Regions from separate parts of the Homo sapiens genome. Here region 2 is linked to region 1. The links come from fine-mapping of genetic effects on gene expression. Tissue or cell type: whole blood. Region 1 holds a variant in brackets; the other region holds the start of a gene. All regions are shown on one strand. Distances are between the middles of the regions.

Region 1 (8,108 bases):
ACAATACTGCAAATAAAACATTTAATATGCAATAATAATAAATTTCATTATTATTATGATGTAGTAATAATGAAGTTAGGAAAAGACTAACTACTAAAATTTATTGTCCTTGGCCAAGACATTATGTAAAAGATCTTTCATACATTTGTGTTTTGAAAATTTTTTAAATCTTTCCTTTTTCATACTCTTTTTTAGTGGGATTTCTATTTTTTTTTTTTTTTGAGACGGAGTCTCACTCTGTCACCCAAGCTGGAGTGCAGTGGTACTATCTCAGCTCACTGCAACCTCCGCCTCAAAAAAAATAATTTTTATATTTTTAGTAGAGACAGGGTTTCACCATGTTGACCAGGCTGGTCTCAAACTCCTGGCCTCAAGTGATCTGCCTGTCTCGGCCTCCCAAAGTGCTGGGATTACAGGCATGAGCCACCACGCCTGGCCCTCCTTTTTGTCCTTATGGATATGCCCGTTACTGGCAGTCCAGCAGTCTGCTTGTCTTCTGCATTCATCCGAAGGAACTAAAAGAAGTAAAAGTGTTTTTTGAGCCAGAGCCATCATCATGGAGAAAAGGGATACACATATATCACCCTCTGCTCTCTACTCAATGTTCTTAGCAGGGGGGATCATGCATTAGATTTCCAGAAAAACTGTTCACAAAAGCATAGGAAAAGAACCAAGGAAAAGGGAGGGGTTCTGGTTAATCTCAAAACAGAAGATTTGAATACCTCTAACCAGAAAGGGTAGTTTTGTCAGTTTTAACCCGGCCTTCACAAATAAGCCTATCACTGAAATGGAGGATTGAAACTGATTAACCCATCTTCTCCAGAAAAAGCCAAGCAGTCAATTTTGAAAGGAAGGATCCCATGACATTTTCTTTTCCTTCTAGTGGAAGAGGTATGGGTTGGGGTGACCTTGAAAAGGCAGAACCATCCCAGATGTCAAATGGATTGGCTCTAATATAGAGCTCTAGCTCTATATTTGTTCTATAATAGGCTTATGCAGTCCTTCTTTTCTTGGATCTTTTCTTCCTGATCTGTGAATATTCAAAATTTAATTGTTCTTGATCTAGTTCAATGCTACCTAAACCGAAGGGCCTTTTCTAATTATTCCAATGAGAAGCCATCTCTCTCCTACTATGAACTTCCATAAATTGTTATCCATAGCTCTCCCAGAGCATGCTTGGAGATAGCATTCAATAAAAGCTTAAAGAATGAAGGTAGATGCCTCCTCCTTTTCCTATTATTAATACTAGAATAATACAAATGTATCAAATATGTGCAATTCTGTGGTGGATGTCACTGAGTCACTTTACTTTTTCAAACAACGTCTAAATTTTCTGTTTTGCTGGGTTACTAATACAGTATAGAAAAATTCAGTCAGGCCAGGCGTGGTGGCTCATGCCTGTAATCCCAGCACTTTGAGAGGCCAAGGTGCGCAGATTGTTTGAGTCCAGGAGTTCAAGAGTAACCTGGGAAACATGCTAAAACCCCGTCTCTACAAAAATACAAAAATTAGCCAGGCATGGCAGCGTAAGCCTGTAGTCCCAGCTACTTGGCGGACTGAGGCGGTGGGGATCCCTTGAGCTCAGGAGGTTGAAGCTGCAGTAAACTGGGATCGTGCCACTGCACTCCAGCCTGGACAACAGAGTGAGACCCTGTCTCCAAAAAAATAAAAAGTAAAAATAAAAATCCAGTCCATTAACTCACCCTTCTTCTTTTCTAAATATAATTATGTAATGAGAACCAGAAAAGGCAGACAAATAAAATCCCAAACCTGCATTTTAGTCAAAAACTAAGAACCCCTCTTCATCAAGAAGTGGGGAAGGCAGGGAAAACCAGATTTGTTTGAATTTTCCTTCCTTTATTCTGTGATGAGATGCTAAAGAGCAGAGAAATAAATGAAAGGACAATAGTCAAAAGGGAGTGAAGAAGACATAAAATAATTTACAAAATGCCTGATATAATCTCAAATAATGGAAAGTTAACTAATTATAGTTATGATCCTATGCAACTCAAAACTAAAACACAATGCATCATCCTTTAATAACCTTTGGATTTGTTGTTTAAAAAAAAGTACAGCCTACTATCAGCTGGATTAAATTTGGCCATATATTCTGTTATATTACAAACCTATCCAGCCATTTCTGAAGCCAAGAAAGAGTAAAATGCACTCTTAGGACTGGTACTCAACCTTGAAGTGCTGAGAGCTACTTCATCATCTAGTGTGGGGACAAACACATACATGCACATGTGAGCCTAACACCATGTGTGGAAACGCATCATTGTAAATCACTCAGGTATTCACTTATTTTAATATACACAAATCAAAGCACAGCTCCCTGTGATTCCTAAAAGGAGAGCTGAAATAGCATTTAACATTTTCTCCTCCCACCCTTCTCACTAAAAGCTTGAGACACAAAGGTGTTCTCCTCTTTCCTTACAGTTATTACTGACAACATGCAGGAAACTATTATAGCTGGCCTAACTTACCAATACCACCTAAATACTGTAAGAGCATACCTGTGCTTAATACTCCAGAAGTGACTCAAAAAGCAAAAGAGACTCCTTATTAGATTTCTTCTAAAAAACTAGAGTAACTCTATAGTTTTAGGATTAGCATTATTCTAATCCAGTTATAAAGTCATGCCAATTTTCCCTTCTATCTTGCTTTACACCACCACTCATAAGCTAAAAGTATTATACTACTTTTCTACATATTAGATGACATTGTTTTAGACTAATTAATCACAATCTACTGTTAATGTTGTTTCCCAAAACTATGTATAACTAGTAAAATATTATTAGCAATATTTCCAAATCCAGGATAATTCTGTTATTGATCTATGGACAAAATCATAAAACACATATTCCAAAAATTACAATAGTTGTATAATCTAGGTTTGTTTGGTTGATTCTGGCCGTGACAGGTAGGACATGACCTTTTACACTTGTTTCCTTCAAAGCTTCTTCATTTTATTCAGCATTAAGTTTAAATTAAATATTTAAAATTGAACCTGTTCTGTGTTGCAAACACAGCTAAAATAAAGAGCTTCTGTAGCAGCAGTGACCAGATTTTAAATGCAGGTAGATCAATAAAAAAAAAAAAAAATCACCAAGCACAGGCTCCATGTGAGTGGAATGGTTTATAATAGCTTGCAAATGACTATGTGCTTGCTGTAACCAGCTGTTCTTAAATTATGAATATGCAACCAATTCATGTTAAAGCCAAATCCCAGCACTATTTCTACAGAGAAATCCCAGTAGTTTTGCTTGTTCTACATGTTAGCTGTGTTAAGGATACAAATAGCAGTAAGCTTCTGAACAAATAGGACCGAACTATTGGCATTTCATGCACTAGGTCCATTATCACAGCAGGCAATGTCAATCATTGGTACATTCCTATAACAGCTCAGGCAATATGACAATGATCTCATAGGAAAAAAAATCAAAATCTCTGCAGCATACTCAAAGTCCTTCTGACAACCTAATGCTTTCTTACTACAGCCAATCAGATTGTCAGACCTGACCTACTAGAAGACTTTCACCAAGCTTGAAACATTTAAAAACATCAATCATAAAAACAAAGACAGGACACTGAATTATACAGTATTAACCTCTAGGGTTTGCATACAAAGACCTTAGATTTATTTATGTCCTAGCGAGTTAAGAGCTTCAGTACACCGTTCTTTACACCAAACTGACTGCCAATTTGATGAACCTCTCTGCCCTCAGCAGGAGTGCACCGTCTTTGATTAATGAGTGCATGTTTGTGGAAAAGTGTTAAGAGGAGAAAACAGGAAAAAACACCCAATTATGTCTACACATAGCTGAAGTACTAATCCAAGAATTATCTTCAAACCAAATGCTCCTTTTTCTTATATACCATGCACACATGTGCACAACACAAAATTAGTAAAGGTTCTTATCTATGTTGCCAT[CATT/C]ATTATTATCCCCAATATGCAATAGTTTTTATTTGAATGAAAGGCATTCAAAAGCCAAAGTACAAGTTGAATTTTATAAATTATAAAAACTATTTTTAAAGCGTTATCTTTTAAAACAAATTGAAATACTCTTACCTTATATAGTAAAAATTTAAGTATGTGGAATAAAAACTATATTTTCACCTCATATTCTTATAAAACCCTATTAAGGTTAAAAACTCAATGTTTAACTGTAAATATCCATACTTTTAAATATTTTATATTTCAAACTCTATTATGACTGCCACAAATCAAATAGCACTCAAAATACATTTAAAAGTCATATATATTCATTTACTTTTCCTGTTTTCAATAAACATGTGGCCAATATTTTATAACTCAATATGCAGTTGAAAATGAATTAAATATATTTATTACCCATAATTTCATACTTAATACGGTCAACAGAAAAAACTGTAAATCAAAGTTTGAACTTTTAAAATGACCTTTCTATTGAGAATTACCTTCCTTCTAGAAATCTGATGCCTGAAAATTCCTACTTAAACTACAGGATGTTTATGTGTAGTACAATTAAGACTATATTATCTCTAAAGATAAACTAAGCATCAGGAGTCCTTTAAAAAAAAGTTCACATTTCATACACAATTCAATGTTCCTTAATTTGATTTATATGAATATCTACCTCAACAAAAATATGTTATGAGTAAATACATTTCTTAAATATTGAGTCATAGTCAAAGGTAACAGAATGATTTTCTTTTTAAGGAGTTGTATGGCTACTATGTAAAAAGGGTTGAGAAAGCATAATGTCTGAATATAAATCTTAGCTTTAGTCAGTAATGTACAACCTATTTAAAAGGAAAGGGTCCCTATAAACTTTGATTTCAGGAAATCATAATTCTGGAATCAATGGCATAAGTGTTAAAAATTTATATTGTAGAGGAAGTTTTGAGCAAATTATATATTCTAATCAATTTCATATTTTAAGTATTTATTTTTGTAATGGCAAATTATTTTAAGTGTTACAAATTTTATGCTCTTTGAAGAATTATTTAAATGCCTAATACACCTAAAGACCTACAAATTAAAAGTCAATAAATATTGGGACTAGAAAAATTCTCTTAACATAGTAATAAATAAACTATATTATATCCTTAAATCTTATTTACATGAATTTTTTAATGGATGTTTCTGTGTTGGGATTATCACTTTTCATTCTTCCTCTTTTCTCCCTCCCATTTCCTCTACCACCAAAAAACACCATGCAAATAATTAGAAAAAGTAGAATATATGTAGGCACCAATGGGATGACACCATTTTAGTATCACATATTTAGTATGACACCATTTTAGTATCACATATTTAGTATCACACATTTTAGTATGATAGCTGAAACTATCAATAAAAGTTATAACAATAAAAATATAATTTCATTTTTTAAAAATCATTAAATGTCTACTAGTAAGTTATTTTAGATCATAGTTTGTATGAATTTTTAAATAACATTTTAGCCTCATTATAAAGAAAAATTAAATACAAAACTGCCTCTTTCCCCAATAATTATTTCTTTTCTTTTGTGATTACTTCCTAGAACAAAAGTTTAAAGAAACAGCCAAATGGATTAACATTTATTAAAAAGGCAACAGTATTTTTAAAACTTCATGGTAAAAAATACTTAATTTTATGTAACCAAAAAAACTCTTAAAATACCTAACTAGGTAACTTAATTAATCCCCCAGGAAATCAAATATATTAATAATCACTAAAACTTGATGACGTAATTCCTCTTAAGGGTCAAAATCACCATATTAATTTGTGCTAAATCATATCTCTTCTTTTGGTAGTTCTACTCAGAAACTACAACTTAAGATCCCTTCTCTGAGAAACCTTTAAACCTAAAAGTAATCAAGTTCCAAAATATACTTTCACTAATTCAAGGAGATAAGACAGAAATCCTGAACTTTCATGCAACTGTGATATCCTACATCTTGTATAGTAACACAAAAGTAGCAACAAAGACATTAACAATTGCAGTTCAAGCTGGGAATGACTGTTCTGTTTCAATTCAATGACACCACTAATGGCTTCTTAGCAGCTCCATGAAATCAACCAGCTGTCAAGTTGATGCATCAGAAGGAACAGTTATGCACTCCCATAAGAAAAAGCAACACATCAGGATGTTTGGCAAAACATCTGCTCCTTTACACTGCAGTTCTATAATAAACATGCAAACAAAGAAATGGGAGAAAGGGCAACAGAATTAAAATTCTAAGGTTTCCATTACAGTCTTATGTGCATTTTAAATGAATGGCTTATAAAAAATAAAAACAAATTTCTACCAAGTTGAATACTTTAAGCTATTCCCAATTTTTTGAAAATGCTAAATATAATTACTCAGAGACTGTTCTAGAAAGAAAAAACCTGCATAAGAATCCATCTATTCTAAAAATTGTAAATAAACAATATTCAAGTAAAATCAGTATCATAATGTTATGTATAAAACTCAAAAATTAAAACTAAAATATATCCTTCCTTCATTTAATAAGTATTTCATAAATGATGCCAGCAGTATTCCAATAAATGCATTTCCAAGACTGAAGAGTTTAGAAGTATTTTTTCATTAGTGTTTGTAAGAGTAAATGGTACTACAATTCGGCACTAGTTTAACATGTGAGAACAGTGAAGCTACTATTATCTGGATTTTAAAATATGTACCCATTCCTGTTTCTCTCCAACCATTATAAGAACACAATATTAAGTTCTCATAAATAACTTTGTATTTTTAAAGCATACAATCTGATTTTCTAAAAAAAAAAAAAAAAAAGACTCTTCATCATCGTAGGCTTAAAATAATTTTAAATTCAACCACTTGTTTCAAATACTTGTAAAAATTACTTTTTTCTATCTGAACCATACGAGTGTCTTAATGTTGTCCAAATTACTGATTATGCAGCAGAGTGACAATAATATGTACAGTGTTTACAATAGGTGTGAGACATCAAATGTACTTAACTACCATTTTCTTAAACTGCTTATCCTCTGTTGCTTGCCATTTATAATCTGCCAAATCTTCTAGTCCTTTGTTGCATGTATAATTTAGAACCATCTGTTCTATGTGCTTTTAACTATTTAAACATTTTTCACCTACCTACAATTCACATAAATGGCAGACACTCAACTCAGTCAAGCTTTCTATATAGCATATTACATGAAGCAAATTCCTGGATAAATAGATAACACCAAAGAAGACTGCTACAGAAATAAAAACTTACCATATAGAACATAAATTTCTGTGTGTTACACAAACCTTTTCAATGTATTCAGAATTGTTTCTATTAGCTTTTTTTAAGTTAATTGTAGTCAGTGTTTTTCCCTCAACCCAGAAGACAAAGAGAATGCAAATTAAATACAGACAGTTTCATGTCCTTGTTAGAAGAGATGTAAATATGCTGACTGAAAATGACTACAGGAGACAGAATTCCACTTTCCCATTCAATATACAGTGCCTCTTATTTATATACTAGTCAGTGTATCATTAAGCTTGGTCATGTGACCAAACCAACTTTTGTGAGGCGAAAAACTATGTTAGACAAGCAAATTAAAACAGTGCTAGTTTTTGTTTATCTGTTCATAATGGCTGACAAAGAGTTTATAGCTAGCGATTATAAAATAACTTTTAAAATCAATTCTGCCTCTTAAATACTCAATAATTGTTTGACTTAATATCTGCTACTAAATTTTAAAGTATCCATTATCTTAAGGTATTTTCCATAGTCATTTCTTTTCAAAATGTAAATAAATAATAGAAAAAGAAAACCCCAGAACATTTTATTAGAAACGGGGAGCCAGATAATCTAAAATAACCATACATAAATATTAACCAAGCTAATTTTCAAAAAATCCATAAGGGAGAGTGGAGCAAATAAGAAAGGGAATATACTGACTACAGATAACAGTTGAAACCTTTAAATTAAAAAAAAAAGTACACAAAAACCAGATAAATAACAAATGACGCACAAGTTTTTTACCATTTTTTGCATATAATCTTCCACCTGTTACCAAAACATACAATACGCAGACTTCGTATACTGATTTTGAGAGCAAAACACAAAAATAAGCCACACAACTTATCAGTAACCTGTAAGTTACACAATCCTATAAAACAGGAGAA
Region 2 (8,108 bases), 190 kb after region 1:
CACTAAATAACCCACAGAAGGAATGAAATACTTGATATGCACAATAAAAATTATGGAAAGTAACCTTGCTGCAAAACTAGTTTTCAACACATAAGCAAATTGTTAAAAGATTCTCAACAGTAAAAGAAGTCCTGAAATAATACCTAATTGAAATTTCACTTTTTCATTGGAAGAAAAATAAACATTAACATTTCAAAATTAATTAATTTATTTATTTATTTATTTATTTATTTATTCATTTATTTATTTTGAGACTGAGTCTCGCTCTGTCGCCCAGGCTGGAGTGCAGTGGCGCGATCTCAGCTCACTGCAAGCTCTGTCTCCTGGGTTCACGCCATTCTCCTGCCTCAGCCTCCTGAGTAGCTGGGACCACAGGTGCCTGCCACCACGCCCGGCTAATTTTTTGTATTTTTAGTAGAGACAGGGTTTCACCGTGTTAGCCAGGATGGTCTCGATCTCCTGACCTCGTGATCCACCCGCCTCGGCCTCCCAAAGTGCTGGGATTACAGGCGTGAGCCACCACGCCCAGCTCAAAATTTATTTTAAAATACTCTAATATTTAATCTGAGATAATTTCCCCTGAAACATAACTGTGCCATACACAAGAGTCAGAAAAGGTGGCATCAGGCCGGGCACGGTGGCTCACACCTGTAATCCCAGCACTTTGGGAGGCCGAGGTGGGCAGATCACGAGGCCAGGAGTTTGAGACCAGCCTGGCCAACATGGTGAAACCCCATCTCTACTAAAAATACAAAAGTTAGCCAGGCATGGTGGCGCATGCCTGTAATCCCAGCTACTCGGGAGGCTGAGGCAGGAGAATTGCTTGAACCCAGAAGGTAGAGGTTGCTGTGAGCCGAGATTGCGCCACCGCACTCCAGCCTGGGTGACAGAGTGAGACTCCATCTCGGAAAAAAAAAAAAAGAAAGAAAGAAAAGGTGGCAGCAATAGATTAAGATGATTTAAGGCTTTGAATTCATTATGAAATGAGTGCATAGCAGAGGTAATATAATTTGAAAAAAATTGCAATCCACTTATCCTACCTACTTTTTAAATAACTCACCTAAATTTTTTCATCCTTTTATTATAACTTAGAATAAAGTGCAGAGACACAAATCAAAACAAAACAAAAATCCACAAGATGGTAAAATCTCTGTTATGGAGCTTCTTTCCCCTGGTAAGAGAAGCAACAAGCAAGACAGATGAATAAACACAATGCATTCAGAAAGGCTTGGAAAAGATAAAACATGGACATGTGACAGAGAATGTGGGTGTTCAGGGAGGCTTCGGAGAAGGTGACATATGAACAGAGATCTGAATGGTGGAGGTGGGGGCAGCCATGCCAAGGACTGGGGGAAGGTGGTGTGCACAGAAGGACCAGAGGTGTTGGAGTACCCAGATACTGTTTACTCTGTGGATACACAGAGTGAATGGCAGGAAGGGTGGTAAGAGATGACATCAGGGAAGAAGGCAGAGGCACCTCATCTAAGGCTTGTAGGACATGGCAATTCAAAATCCCTAGATTCTGATCCACATGATGATCACAGAATGAGGACTTACTCGGAACATGCTTGTTCACTCAGCTCATGCCAGGCATAGGAAACCACTGACCAAATAAATACATACTGATCATCTATTATGTGCTTAAGCACCCTTACGGAAAAACTTTTTAAAGCGATGCCATGGATTTTCACTCAGGAATTTAAAGAATGTTTTGTCCACTGTGATTTTCAAAATAATAGCTAAGAACAAGGTTAAGATCACTTCACTAATAACCTCCAGAATGACAGACAATAACAATGATTTCCGTTTCAACATCACATTTATATGCAATACCCATATTTATTATGCAACATCATAAGAGCTTTTCTATTAAGATCTTGGTATTCAGCAACAAACTCTTTCTTGACTTAGTTCTAAGCCAAATATGACCCCTGATCTTGCTTGGATGGGAGATTTGTAAAGTATTATGAAAAACACACTTAGTTTTTCAGCCCTATAACATTAGCATACATATGAATGTGTTCAGTAACCATAAACATCCAATATACATAAGGTGGTATTCATACGTTTTCTGGTTGCAACAATTACCCTTCATTTTGTATGAAGAGAATAAAGGGAAGGAAACCAAGATGAACCACGCCTGTAATAGGGACTAGACGTGGAGTTCCCACTTAATGCTCCCAATAGCCCCATGAGTAAGTATTATCTCTGTTTTACTGAAGTGCAGATAAGTTGGTTAACTAGCTAGGTCAAAGCTCACACTCATTTCCAAATTAATCCTTAAAGCTTCCTGACTGGGAGGAGCTGATTAATTAACATTAATTTATTCATCATGCACTTTTCTAAAGCTCTTGAAAAGCCTATTGATCCACACTGGACTTATCAAAGGAAATGCACAAAAATTTCCAAAGGGAAATTTGCCCTCTATTGCTGGTCAAAACAGCTTCACTGAAGAAGAGACATACCAAAATCTAGAAACTGATTTTCTTTAAAAGTCTGACAAGAAAGAAAAATCTGACAAGAAAATTCGACTAGCCTAAAGTACAAATGCACAGCCTCGCAGAGGGTGGTTTACATGAGAGTTGAGATGTTACTGGCTCGCAAAATGAGGGTGTGCAGAAGGAGGGTTCAGAGACAGCCCAGCTTTGTCTTAGACAAAATTAATGTTCCCAGTCTGAACAATGTGAACATGGGCACATCTTGTTTCTGCCCCTTTGATAGGCAGCAGATGTCACAACCAGTCATAAATGCAGGTCCACAGAAGTTTTCAAGAAAGGAACCTTGGGTTTGTATCCAAGTTCTGAGCTGCTGCTGCCTCCAACACTGAGGTCCACTGAAATATTCCTGTCAGTAGACTTCGAGCAGGCAGTTATTATAAAAACGCAGTGAAATCTGGGGCAAGGGGTGGGGGGGGGGAATCTCTTGCATTTTATTTAAATCTCTTGCACTTTATTTAAGCCCACACAAGTACTCATTTAGTTCTTGTTTATTTTGCTCTTTAATTCCTGGAATTATTCAGTCAGTGGTGTTTTTGGAAGTCTGTGTTCTCCAGAGTCTCCCCATCCACATATTTTTGACATGCTTGTATGGAAATTTTTTAAAAATAAAGACCACGGTCAATAGAATTGTGCATTTTCCTCACGAGTCGTTTTGTAAATGAATGATCACGTGTGTGATTTTTCAGATGTCACTTGCACAACAGCAGACTAGAACTTTAAAACTCCTTGATTTCAGTGAAATCCAAGCTTTGCCTATTCCCGTTCCTCTTCCATCCAGGGGTTATTTGGCTGAACTGTTTTCCTGTTTAAACAACTTGAACACCAACCAACTAGACAAACAGCGCTGCTTGCAAAAGAGGGCCTACTTCCTCCGGCCCCCACCCCCATCCCAGCAACCCCACTCCGGCCGCGCACCAGCAGGGGAAATCGCCACCAACGTCCCCGCTTCTCATTTCAGCCCGAAATTGCCCTGAAACGGCGCCCGTCGTGCGACTCCAAGTCCCTCAGTTCTCCGGCCAACTGGCCTAATTTGGGGGTTCCCTCCCCGCGGAGTGGGGTCTGCGGTGAGGATGTGGACTCCGAGGAAGACAGAGCCCTCCCTTATTCTCGGCCACCTCCCCTCCCCGAGGGCAGGCGGGTGAGAGGTGACCCGGAGCCAGGACCCACGGGGGACGGGCGTGCAGGGAAGGGCGGGATGGCCGGCCGGGTGTTGCGTCTGCGGGCCGCCCTCGGGTGCGCGGGGACGAAGAGCGTGCGTTGGGAAGGGGGCGAAGGCGGTCGCGCACGGTCCCGGCGAGGGACTACGTAAGGGCTTACCCGCGACGGCAGCAGCGGCGAGGCCCAGCAACGGCAGCAGGAGCGCGGGCAGCGCGGCCCGGAGCATGACGGCGGGTGCGGGTGGGCGGCAGCGGCTGCGCGGCCGGAGAGGAGCGGGGCGGGGCGGGAGCGGGGGCGGTGCTTCTCGCGTGCGAGTTTAATCCCCCCCCCGGGCGGAACGTGAACGGCACTGGGGGCTCCCACCAGGAGAACCCGGGTGTCCCGTCCCGCAGGAGCGGCTGGCGCGCGGCCTTCTGGAACTTCTAATTTTTGTTTTTTAAACTTTTCATTTGAATTGAAATAATTTAGGACTTTCGAAAATGTTGCAAAAACAGCACAAGAGATTTCCGTAACCCTTCAGCCAGCTTCTCTAAATATTGACATTGTATATAACGCCAGTGCAGTGATCAAACACAGGGCACTCGCACTGGGATAATGCGATTAGCTAATCTACAGCACTTACCACATTTCATTAATTGCCCCTCTAAGGGTCCTTTTCTGTTCCAAGATTCAATCCAGGATCATACATTGCATGTCGTGTCTCCTTAGTCTCCCTTTAATCTAGGACGGTTCTCTGTCATTCTTTTTCTTTCACGATCAAACCACATTTAAAAAGTACTGGCCAGTCGTTTTGTAGAATGTCCCTCAGTTTCATTTTGTCTGACATTTCCTTCTAATTGGATTCAGGTTGCGCTTTTTTGGGAAAGAGTTCCCCAGAAGTGATGTACGTGCTCGAGAAGGACAAGATGTCGATGTCTCATCACTGATGTTAACTTGGATCAGTTGGTTAAGGTGGCGTTTGCCAGCCTTCTTCTTTGGATCTACTGGCCAGAATCCTCCTTTTCAAAGACCCCTTTCAGTGGACTATGTCTCTTAGACAACTTTTCTCTGTTACCAGCTCCTGGATGAAGAGTCTTTAAGCTATGTTTGCTACAATGTATGCATAAACTGTGCAATTATACTTCACCCATGAGGGCCTCTGGACAACACTAGCCAGGGTCAAGCAAGGGTGCTTGTTTAAGCCTCATGTCATTGGCAAAAGAGTTCTATAAAATCAAGTCTAAACTCAACAACGTGAAAACAAATGACCCAGTTAAAAAAAATGGTCAGATGATCTGAATACACACGTCATCAAAGAAGTTATATAATGGCAAATAGATGAAAAGATGCTCAACATCATATGTCATTGCTGAATTGTATATGAAAACAAAAATGAAATACCACTACATACCTATTAGATACCAGAATCCAAAAACACTGACAAGACCACATGCTGGCAAAGATGTGGAGCAAAAAGAACTCTCATTCAATGCTGGTGCAAATGCAAAATGGTACAGCCACTTTGGAAGACAATTTGGAAGCTTCTTCCAAAACTAAACGTACTCTTACCATACCATCTAGCAATCACAACTCCTTGGTATTTATCCAAATGAGTTAAAAACTTACATACACACAAAAACCTGCACATGAATGTTGATAGCAGCTTTATTCATAATTGCCAGAACCTAGAGGCAAACAAGATGTCCTTCAATAAGTGAATGGATAAACAATGGCACATCCAAACAATGAAATGTTACTCAGTACCAAAATTAAATGAGCTATCAAGCCACAAAAAGACATGGAAGAACTTTAAATATGTATTGCTAAGAGAAAGAAGCCAATCTGAAAAGACTGCATACTATATGATTCCAACTATATGACATTTTAGACAAGGCAAAACTATGGAGACAGTAAAAAGATAAATGGTTGCCAGGGGTTGGGGTGGGAAGAAGGAGGGGATGAATAGATGGAACACAGAGGATTTTTAGAGCCATGAAATTATTCTGTAGGATACTGTAATGGTAGATGTGTATCACTATACATGTGTCAAAACCCATAGAATGCACAAAACGAAGATGAACCCTAGTGTGGACAATGGACTTTAGTTAATAATGTGTCAATATTGGCTCATCCACTGTAACAAATGTACCTGCTAATGCAAGATGTTAATAATTGGGGAAACTGGGGTATGTGTAAGGAGGTACATGGGAGCTCTGTACCTTCTGCTACATTTTTTGTATACATCTAAAACTGCTCAAAAATTAGTCTATTTTTAAAAAAATAAAATCTGACCCTTTCCAACTCTTTCTAACCCTTTCCACACTTCTGATAATCCAGAGTGGTTACACCAAGGAAATTTGACCCAAGGGGTCTATAAGGAGAGTCATAGAGTGTTAGAAGTGGTACTAGTAAGGAAATTGAGTGACCCAAAGAAGGGATGTGATTCCCCCGTGGGCTCACAGAGAATGCCAACAAATGAACCAGAGCCCAGCTCCTCTGCTGGACTCTCCCACCTATTCCAGGTTCTGCCCCTTTGCCAAAGTATTAAGGTCTTGCTTAACTTATTTACTTCCATTTTTCTTCTCAGGCTGCCAATACTGAGTTTATTATATACCAAACTCCAGACCAGAGCAAATCCTTCCAAAGATACTCTATATTGGAATATTGACACATCTTGATTCTGGACCCTTTTGCCCTCCTAACTACAGAAGTAAAATGAACAGTTCTAAGCAATCATGTAATTGTGAAAGTTATCTCTTCCACCCCCACCTCAGGCACCAAAGTATATTTTATCAATGTGGTTTTGTGTTAAGCTACTTTTCAAATATTTTTATATTTACAATAGAATTGACATCCTAATGAATCAATCTAATTAAGGCAAAACCCATTTTAACACTGTCATTTTAAGTCATTTGTACTAAAGAAAATTATATTATTTTATTGTTAACTCTGGTGCACACTGCCTCATTTTTGATGCTAATCTGATGAAATAGACTACTTATTGCCTGTATGTGGGTACTGTTATATTTCGCTCTCCCATTTACTCTCCAGTTACACCTCATACCCTTAATTTTCCTTCACTCTGTCTCCAACTTACATCCTCTTTTGGCTCATGCCAGACTTCAGTCCCTTGCCTGCATTTTTCTCAGCCTTTTATTTCTCCCTTCTCCACCCAGCCGAAATACCACATCCTCTGTCCCCTTGTTCCCCTGGTGTGCTCACCTGGCCAACTCGGAATCTGTGGTCTCCGCTTTCTTCTTCATGCTTTTTTTTTTTTTTAGACGGAGTCTCACTCTGTCCCCCAGGCTGGAGTGCAGTCGCGCTATCTCAGCTCACCTCAACCTCCACTTTATAGGTTCAAGCAATTCTCCTGCCTCAGCCTCCCGAGTAGCTAGGATTACAGGCGTGTATCACCACACCTGGCTAAGTTTTTTCTATTTTTAGTAGAGGTGGGGTTTCACCATGTTGGCCAGGCTGGTCTTGAACTCCTGACCTCAAGTGATCTGCCCGCCTTGGCCTCCCAAAGTGCTGGGATTACAGGCATGAGCCACCTCGCCTGGCCCGTGCTCTCTTTTTCCTCAACTTTACTGAAGTTAACTGAGGACAGGTGGAGGAAATCAATCAGTTCTCCCGATGGCTGTCACTATAAACAATATGGCTTTTAATTTCATCTGGGCCTTCTATGCCTCTTCTGCAATCCTTGTATTTGATTTTACCTTAGTCACTGTCCTCTCCTATTTCTCTCATTGAGTCTTTCAAATTTATTACTCTTTTCAAGCTAAGATCCCAGGCTGGGTATGGTGGCTCACACCTGTAATCCCAACACTTGGGAGGCTGAAGTGGGAGGATCACTTGAGCCCAGGAGTTTGAGAGCAGCCTAGGTAACATTGAAATCACCTGTCTCTAGGGAAAAAAAAAAGTTAATGTTGGAGGTCGAGACTGCAGTGAGCTAGAGTTGCACCACTGCATTCCAGCCTGGGCAACTGAGACAGACCCTGTCTCTAAAAAATTAAAAAACTTTTTAAAAGACCCCATCTGCTACCCATCTTTCTCAGCAGACCTTGCCTTCTAGTACACAAGAAAACAGGTGCCATTACATATAGACAAACATCTTCAAATGCTTATCTGCAGTTCTTCTCTTGTGGTCTCAGAGAGGAAGGCATGCTTCTCCAGCCCACCCAAACCAGTTCCTCTTTCTGCTTAGGACTGCCCCTCTCATTTTATCTTCTCCAAGATCTTCCATTAATGATTCCCTCTCCCCACTGCATCATCAACTTCTCTCTGTCCATTATTTTTGTTTTTGTTTTTGTTTTTTTCATCTCAGCTTCTAAACTTGTGAACCTCTTTCTCTCCCCTTTAGAAAAAAACCCTTTTTCAACCCTTCTTTCCCCTCTGGCTATGGCCCAGCCCCTTTCCTTTCTGTCTCCATCATACTTCTCGAAATCTCATGTTCCTCATCTCCTAATTTCCCTT

Evidence for each region. PIP is the estimated chance that this variant, and not a neighbour inherited with it, causes the effect.
Region 2: CD302 starts here. The variant in region 1 is fine-mapped to the expression of CD302 in whole blood (TOPMed, PIP 0.99).

What each region holds. Positions count from the first base shown.
Region 1 is chr2:159,606,717-159,614,824 of GRCh38, forward strand. The region is part of intron 1 of BAZ2B (bromodomain adjacent to zinc finger domain 2B); the gene reads right to left. Among named protein-coding and RNA genes, the nearest start is that of BAZ2B-AS1, 4.5 kb to the right of the region's middle. RefSeq lists an enhancer at 7,783-8,108. The variant CATT/C (reference allele first, on the strand shown) is at 3,935.
Region 2 is chr2:159,794,317-159,802,424 of GRCh38, forward strand. It overlaps CD302 (CD302 molecule), which reads right to left and starts at 3,892. Exons shown (of 6, transcript NM_014880.5): 1 at 3,816-3,892. The coding sequence starts at 3,882. All of the region lies in intron 33 of LY75-CD302 (LY75-CD302 readthrough), which reads right to left. It overlaps LOC124906083 (a long non-coding RNA gene), which reads left to right and starts at 874. Exons shown (of 2, transcript XR_007087273.1): 1 at 874-3,636; 2 at 4,503-5,936.